2 linked regions of the Homo sapiens genome follow. Changing the gene in region 2 together with the main gene of any one other region gives a genetic interaction. Each region holds a gene or a part of one and is shown on either strand. Other genes may lie near its edges. The genes, in order: GBF1 and ALG12.

Region 1 (3,806 bases), on a different chromosome or scaffold from region 2:
GGTACATGTCCTCCAGGATGTCTTGCTCAAAGTCCTTGCCTCCATTCACACCTTTCAGATTTTTGCGAAACTCCTAGAGACAGGCCAGTAAGTTTTTTCCCCTTGTGTCAACACTGAAGCCCCACCTAAGGAACTCCTGGGTTTTCAGTAAATAGGACTTAGGAAAAGGTAAGCGAAAAAACCCACTTCCCCACCCCAGTCCCTTTTCTAGGTTGGCCAGCCCTTCCTGATTCCCTTGGACAGAACCCCATCCATCATGCCCACTGGAAATCCTATGTCCTTCCTGCTACCTCCCAAGCTGTGCTGGGTCTTCTTTGCCTTGACTGGGACCCAAGCTTACCTCCAGGGTCATGGGTGCATTCTGTTTACGAACATTGTGGTTGTGCTGGTCAGTATTAAGCATGATGACAGCATAGGCCAGGGAAAAGCAGGCATCGCTATTGGCAAATGGGGAGCCATTACAATTCTGAAAAAGCAAAGATCCCGCCTGTGTCAATGCCCTTCTCTGGCCAATTAAACCCTCACTACCAACCCACTGGTCAGTGCTAGTACAGAGGAGAGGTACCATCCAGAAAGTGGCCAGTCTCTTGCCAACTCCTTAACAGAAGCTGATCTCTTTGTGGAAAGGTCACTAATTTTGCTCTCTGACTTTTTAAGAGACAGCAGGCTGGGTGCGGTGGTTCACGCTTGTAATCCCAGCACTCAGGGAGGCCGAGGTGGGCGGATCACCCGAGATCAGGAGTTCGAGACCAGCCTGACCAACATGGCAAAACCCATCTCTACTAAAAATACAAAAATTAGCCAGGCTTGGTGGCAGGTGCCTGAAATCCCAGCTACTCAGGAGGCTAAGGCAGGAGAATTGCTTGAACCCGGGGGGTGGAGGTTGCAGTGTGCTGAGACTGCGCTACTGCACTCCAGCCTGGGTGACAGAGCGAGACTCTGTCTCAAAAAAAAAAAAAAAAAAAAGAGACAGCAGCTGGATTCTTCAGCCCTCAGTCAAACTGACCTTGGATCCTGGGCTCAGCCCCTGACACTCAAACTCACCATCCAACGCTCTGTGAATGCCTCCAGCAACCTCTGGATGACTGGTGCTTCCCCAGGCAAACGGAAGGCTTCCAGGTAGAGGCGGAGGGCTTCGTCCAGTCGCAGACCCTGAAAACTGAAGGTGCTATAGGGAAAGAAAGGAAGAAGAGGCTGAAAATGTGTAAGCTGCACATGTCAGGCTCTTTTAGTCACTGTCCTCCTAACCTACTCTTACTGGAAGAGAGGAGGCTGAGGTCTCTAGTAAAGGGGCAGTATCTCCTGTTCATCCCTAACACAACCCCTAGCCTTAATACTTTTCACATCCACGGACTCTTGCCTAGAACCCTCACCCCCTGGAACCCTGCTCTACCCCTTTGGAATGGACTCCATGCAGAATGGAGGGGGCTCCCCAAACTATCTCGTTGGAGTCCCTTTCAGGTCCAATAGATATAAATGATGGGTAGAGGAAGAACATTGGCTAGGGTCTCCAGAAGAAATTTATAGAGACCGCTTTGAGGTAGGGATGTTCTGTCCCTTTAAACTGATCACTAACCATGTCCCACCTTTTTTTTTTTTGAGCCAAGGTCTCACTCTATCACAGCTCTATCACAGTGGCATGATCTCACTCTATCTCACTCTATCTCACTCTATCACAGTGGCATGATCACAGCTCACTGCAGCCTCGAACTCCCAGACTCAAGTGATCTTCCTGCCTCAGCCTCCTGAACAGCTGGGACTACAGGCACATGCCACCATGCCCAGCTAATTTTTGTATTTTTTGTAGAGACAGGGTTTCACCATGTTGCCCAGGCTGGTCTTGAACTCCTGAGCTCGAGTGATCTGCCTGCCTCAGCCTCCCAAAGTGTCAGGATTACAGGCATGAGCCACCATACCTGGCTATATCCCACATTTCTTACAGCTTCCTCACCTCACAAAGCTCTCCAACAGGTCAATGTTTTTGCGGTCACTCACAAACTCTCCAATCATCTTCTTGTCCAGCCGAGGGTTCTCTCGGAGCCACTGAGCAACCTCTGTGTTGTCCATTGGGATGGTGAGGAGGCCTTTCTCTTGCAGAAACTGAATCCCCTTCTTTGGTTTCTGATTGAACTGCTCTGTGCCAGTGATTAGCAGCTGCATGAGAAAAACTAGAGGTATAGAAGCTACTTTGCCTCTAAATTAGACAAGGCCAGCCTGGAGTCCACCATAGCCCACCCACAGTTGGTCAGCTAAAAAGCTCCTAGGATGTGGTTCTTAGTGATTACAGAACTAAGGCTAGATCATAATGGCCTTAGCTTCCCCCATCTTCATGTCTAATTGAATTGGCTTACGAGCTCTTTTTTACTCCTTTCCTGAGTGCTCAAGATACATAAAACAGTTCCTCTTCTCTAACTTAGGATTGGGGGAAAAGTAGAAGAAAGAAACTAGGTAATTCTTCTCTCCAGTTTTATATCCATCCCTGACATTTGTTGATAGCCAGCCTCTTGTTTTTAGCCTAGCTTAGCTTCTTTGGTTGCCTAGCTTAATGCCCTGGGTTTGAAAGACAAAGTGGACTAACTGTGGAGGCAACTCATATTTCTGTATGTCCAGTCACGGCCAGGTACTCAAGGGCACACATGAACCAAAGTCATTTAAGCTGGCAATAAGAGAAAGAAAGGGTTAGGTTTTTTTTTTCTTTTTCCGAGATGGAGTTTCACTCTGTTGCCCAGGCTGGAGTGCAGTGGCGTGATCTCAGCTCACTGCAACCTCTGCCTCCCAGGTTCAACTGATTCTCCTGCCTCAGTCTCCCGAGTAGCTGGGATTACAGGCATGCACCACCATGCCCAGCTAATTTTTGTATTTTTAGTAGAGACGGGGTTTCATCGTGTTAGCCAGGCTGGTCTCAAACTCCTGACCTCAGGTGATCTGCCCACCTCGATCTCCCAAAGTGCTGGGATTACAGGCGTGAGCCACTGCGCCCGGCCAGAAAGGGTTAGGTTTTCTTTGTGTTAAGAAACCCAAAGTACAGGCCAGACATGGTGGCTCACGACTGTAATCCCAGCACTTTGGGAGGCCAAGGTGGGCAGATCACGAGGTCAGGAGATCAAGACCACCCTGGCTAACACGGTGAAACCCCGTCTCTACTAAAAATACAAAAAATTAGCCAGGCATGGTGGCACACGCCTGTAGTCCCAGCTACTTGGGAGCCTGAGGCAGAAGAATTGCTTGAACCCGGTAGGTGGAGGTTGCAGTGAGCTGAGATCATGCCACTGCACTCCAGCCTAGGCAACAGAGAGAGACTCCGTCTGAAAAAAAAAAAAAAAAAAAAAAAAAGAAATCCAAAGTACAAACAGTTATTTGAACCTTACTATTTGAACCTTACTAAAGCACCAGAATGAATATCAATTTCCCTTTATTGCCAATCATCTTGCAAGAGCTGGAGATGACAGTAACCTTCAATGACCCACAAGACACCAACTCCCAAGGCTCCTGTCACTGCCACTAGTGACACTTGGCTCTCAACTGGTACAGCATTTGCGCAGGGGCATACATAGGGTATGCTCAACTACATAGCTTAGGAGTAAGGGAAGGGCTTCAAATGGGAGTTGCTGAAGTCCCAACAAGCCCAAAGACTGGCCTCAGGAAGCTGTACAATGAGGTGCTAGACTCTCCTTCATCTTCTGAGATGGAAACCCTACAACACTGGACACCCAGACAGAGGTGGACAGAGGCTGGGGAATACATGTATGTACCTTCTTTTTGTTTTTAATTTCAATTAGTTCCCGTGGATCTGGCAGGAGACAGGA
Region 2 (3,806 bases):
CCCAACATGTGTGTCACCCGTGACCGTCTGTTTTTTGTTTTTTGGTTTTTTTTTTTTTTTTTTTTGAGACAGAGTCTCACTCTGTCGCCAGGTTGGAGTACAGTGGCATGATCTCGGCTCACTGCAACCTCCAACTCCCTGGTTCAAGTGATTCTCCTGCCTCAGCCTCCTGAGTAGCTGGGATTACAGGCACATGCCACCATGCCCAGCTAATTTTTGTATTTGTAGTAGAGACAGGGTTTCACCATGTTGGCCAGGATGGTCTCGATCTCTTTACCTCGTGATCTACCCACCTTGGCCTCCCGAAGTGCTGGGATTACAGACATGAGCCACTGCGCCCGGCCGACCATCTGTTTTTAACAGTGAAGAAAAGGGTACAGAGACCGAACGTCCTGTGGCCCTTGCTGCCTTGGTCCTGCCTGGAGGGGGCCCGACGCCCAAGTGGTATGTGTGCACCCGAGCTGTGGCCTGGGCTCTGTCTTTTAGGAGGGGCCTGAGGCCTGAGTGGTGTCTGTGCACACGAGCCGTGGTCCAGGCTGCATCTCTCAGCACAACTGTCTTCAAGCGTCTTCTCCACCTTGACCCTGCCACCTAGCCCACGGGCTCATGCGTGGACAGGTGCGTGGCCTCCTTAACCCAGCCCGCAGACCTCCCCGCTGCTGTGGTACTTCTACTCAGCCCTGCCCCGCGGCCTGGGCTGCAGCCTGCTCTTCATCCCCCTGGGCTTGGTAGACAGAAGGACGCACGCGCCGACGGTGCTGGCACTGGGCTTCATGGCACTCTACTCCCTCCTGCCACACAAGGAGCTACGCTTCATCATCTATGCCTTCCCCATGCTCAACATCACGGCTGCCAGAGGCTGCTCCTACCTGTGAGTGCTCTTTTTGTGACATGCATTTTTATAGTTTCATTGGAAACAGGTTCACTGATTTACTGTTGGGGGGATGTATGTGTGTGTTTAATTTTTGAAACAGGGTCTTGCTCTGTCGCCCAGCTGGAGTGGGGCTTACTGCACCCCTCAACTCCTAGGGGGTTAAGCCATCCTCCTGCCTCCTCCTCTGGAAGTGCTGGGATTGCAGGTGTGAGCCACCAGGGCTGTTTTTTAAGATAAACACAGGGTGTGTTGAACTAGGCGCTTATGTCAAAGGAGGGTGACCCCAGTCCTCTCTCCTCCCTGAGGGCTGCATGGGATGGGACCGGCCTGGCATTGTGCTGACAGAGGGCTTTGCTCAGGTGGTCTCTGTCTTGGGTTAATTTGGTGACTGGTCCACATATGGTGATGCACCAGCGGTCCCAGTCTCTGTCATGGGAGAGTGACACTCACATAGGTAGCAGCGGCAGAGGGCAGGGGCAGCCAGGCCTGGGAGGCTCTGAGGGCGACAGGTCAGGTAGAGGAAGGGCGTTCGTGGCCATCCTGACAGGGCCTCGGGCTTGAGGGCGTTTGTCAAGGCGGGTCATCTGGCTGGAAGAGGGGGATGGTGAGGGAGGTGCCTATGGCTGGGTGCAGAGGGCCCAGCGTGGCCCAGGCTCAAGGTCCTGTGGAGGGCAGGGGGCTTCCTGCGGGGAGGGACTGCAGGCAGCAGGTGATGGAGGTGGAGCTGGGGGCCTGGCAGGGCCTGGGGAGGGCACTGCCTGGGCTGAGGGTGGGGTGGTCTGAGCGCGGCTGCCACTCAGTGTTGCAAGCCTCAGGGAGCCAGGAGAGTCCATCACTGCCGGGCCCTGTGGGTGCTGGGGAAGGACCCGGGGCTCAGGCCCAGGAGAGTCCATCACTGCTGGCCCTGTGGGTGCTGCGGAAGAACCCAGGGCTGAGGCTGGCCAGCTCTGTGCCCGTTCAGAGTTTGCTGCCTTGATGGGAACAGGAGGCCAACTCAGGCCACGCTGGGCATTGAGGGGCGGCAGGGCTACAGGCCAGGAGGGCCGCGGCCTGGGGCATTGAGAGGTGCCCACTCTGGCTGGAGAGGAAGCCCCACAATGCGGTCCCTGATCTCAGGCAGCGGTCAGGTGCTTTCCGGTGCCACTTGTTACAGGGGAGGGGATGGTGCCCCCCAGCTCCGACTGCCCCGCACTGCCCTCGGGCCTGGGAGCTCCTCTGGCTGCCGTGACTGTTCCTCGCTGGGGGTTCCTCCGGCTGCCGTGGCCGTGCCTGGGTTGGGGGCTCCTCTGGCTGCTGTAGCCGCGCCTCAGTGGGGGCTCCTGGGAGCTCTGCCTCTGCTTTTCTGTGCCTTTGGCTCCCTCTCGTCTCAGGGGTCGGCTCAGGGCTGGAGGAGGAGCAGACCCCAGCCAGAGTCATGGAAAAGAGGGTAGGAAAGACGGGGAGAGCGGCGCGGATGGATTGTATTCGGTGACAGGCTTTTCCAGCAGGGAAGAAGATCCAGTGGGAACTGGACCCAGCTCTGTGTCTTTGAGGCCTGGTGTGCTGGGCGTGAGGGGCTGCTCCATGCAAGGGCCCCTGCTGTGCCAGTCGGCCTTATCCGGAGGAGGACAAACTTGGGGAGTCCAAATGAGGGGGTGCAGGGTAGAGCAAGGCCCCCTCCGAAGTCAGGTCCTCAGCCCGGCCACCCTGGGAGCAAGAGCAGGCCGTTTCCCACGGTGTCAGGGCCCAGGGCCTTGAGACAGTCCTGGGGGTGGAAGGTTTCTGATTGCGAGCTTTCCACAGTGACTGCCCACTCCAGGTTTGGGCGGGAACAAAGGACGAACGCCCTGGCAGTGCTGAGCTCTTTGGGGCAGGCACTTAGGAGGCTGCGGTCATCCTAGGTGGGGCCTCGAGCTCAGAAACCGCACCAGAGATTGTTCAAGGGTGCACTAGTCTGCTCTCGCACTGATGTAAAGAAACACCTGAGACTGGATAATTTATAAAGAGGAGGCTTCATTGGCTCGCGGTTCCGCAGGCTGTACGGGAAGCGTGGTACTGGTGTCTGCTCAGCTTCCAGGCTGGCCTGGGAAAACTTTCCATTATGGCGGAAGGCGAGAGGGAAGCGGGCACGCTTTTATGTGGCCAAAGCAGGACGAAGAGGGACGGGGGAGGTGTCACCCATTTTCAAACAAGCAGACCTCTCGAGAACTCACTCGGTATGAGGAGAACAGCATGGAGGGGATGGCGCTAATCCATTCCTGAGGGCTCCACCTCCATGACCCAGTCACCTCCCACCAGGCCCCACCTCCAGCATTGGGGATCACAGTTGGACATGAGATTTGGTGGGGACGCAGATCCAAACCATAGCAAAGGGCAGGGCCTGTGGAGAAGAGGGCTCCGAGGAGCCTGGTGGGTTTGGAAGAGAGTGAGTCTTGATCGGGGGTTCAGGGCGTTTAGACCAGGGTTGGCAAGCTTTTCCGTTAAGGACCAGCTAATAAAGAGCCTCATCTTCGTGGGCCACACTGTCTGTGGCAGCTGCTAACTCTGCCGTAGGATCCTGAGATTGGCATAGTCGATTGTGAGAGAACCGGCGGCACCCTGTCCCAGAGAGTTCACTCAGACCTGCTGGGAGTGGGCTTGGCCGCGCGGGTGGCACTCTGACCTACACAGTCACTTGGGATTGTTTGAAAATATATTTTTAGGCTGGGCGCAGTGGCTCATGCCTGTAATCTCAGCACTTTGGGAGGCTGAGGCGGGCAGATCACGAGGTCAGGAGTTCAAGACTAGCCTGGCCAACATAGTGAAAGCCTGTCTCTACTAAAAATACAGAAATTAGATGGGCATGGTGGCGTGCACCTGTAGTCCCAGCTACTTGGGAGGCTGAGGCAGGAGAATCACTTGAACCCAGGAGGCGGAGGTTGCAGTGAGCCGAGATCATGGCACTGCACTCCAG

Evidence for each region.
Region 1: changes in ALG12 (region 2) and GBF1 together harm fitness more than expected from each alone (negative genetic interaction), as found in Homo sapiens cells (one study listed by BioGRID).

The regions. Positions count from the first base shown.
Region 1 is NC_000010.11:102,363,745-102,367,550, reverse strand, and holds part of GBF1 (Golgi-specific brefeldin A-resistance guanine nucleotide exchange factor 1), read right to left. Parts: coding exon 3,753-3,806; intron 2,155-3,752; coding exon 1,952-2,154; intron 1,169-1,951; coding exon 1,045-1,168; intron 467-1,044; coding exon 341-466; intron 74-340; coding exon 1-73. UniProt on the Homo sapiens protein: Guanine-nucleotide exchange factor (GEF) for members of the Arf family of small GTPases involved in trafficking in the early secretory pathway; its GEF activity initiates the coating of nascent vesicles via the localized generation of activated ARFs through replacement of GDP with GTP.
Region 2 is NC_000022.11:49,904,786-49,908,591, reverse strand, and holds part of ALG12 (dol-P-Man:Man(7)GlcNAc(2)-PP-Dol alpha-1,6-mannosyltransferase), read left to right. Parts: intron 1-647; coding exon 648-871; intron 872-3,806. UniProt on the Homo sapiens protein: Mannosyltransferase that operates in the biosynthetic pathway of dolichol-linked oligosaccharides, the glycan precursors employed in protein asparagine (N)-glycosylation.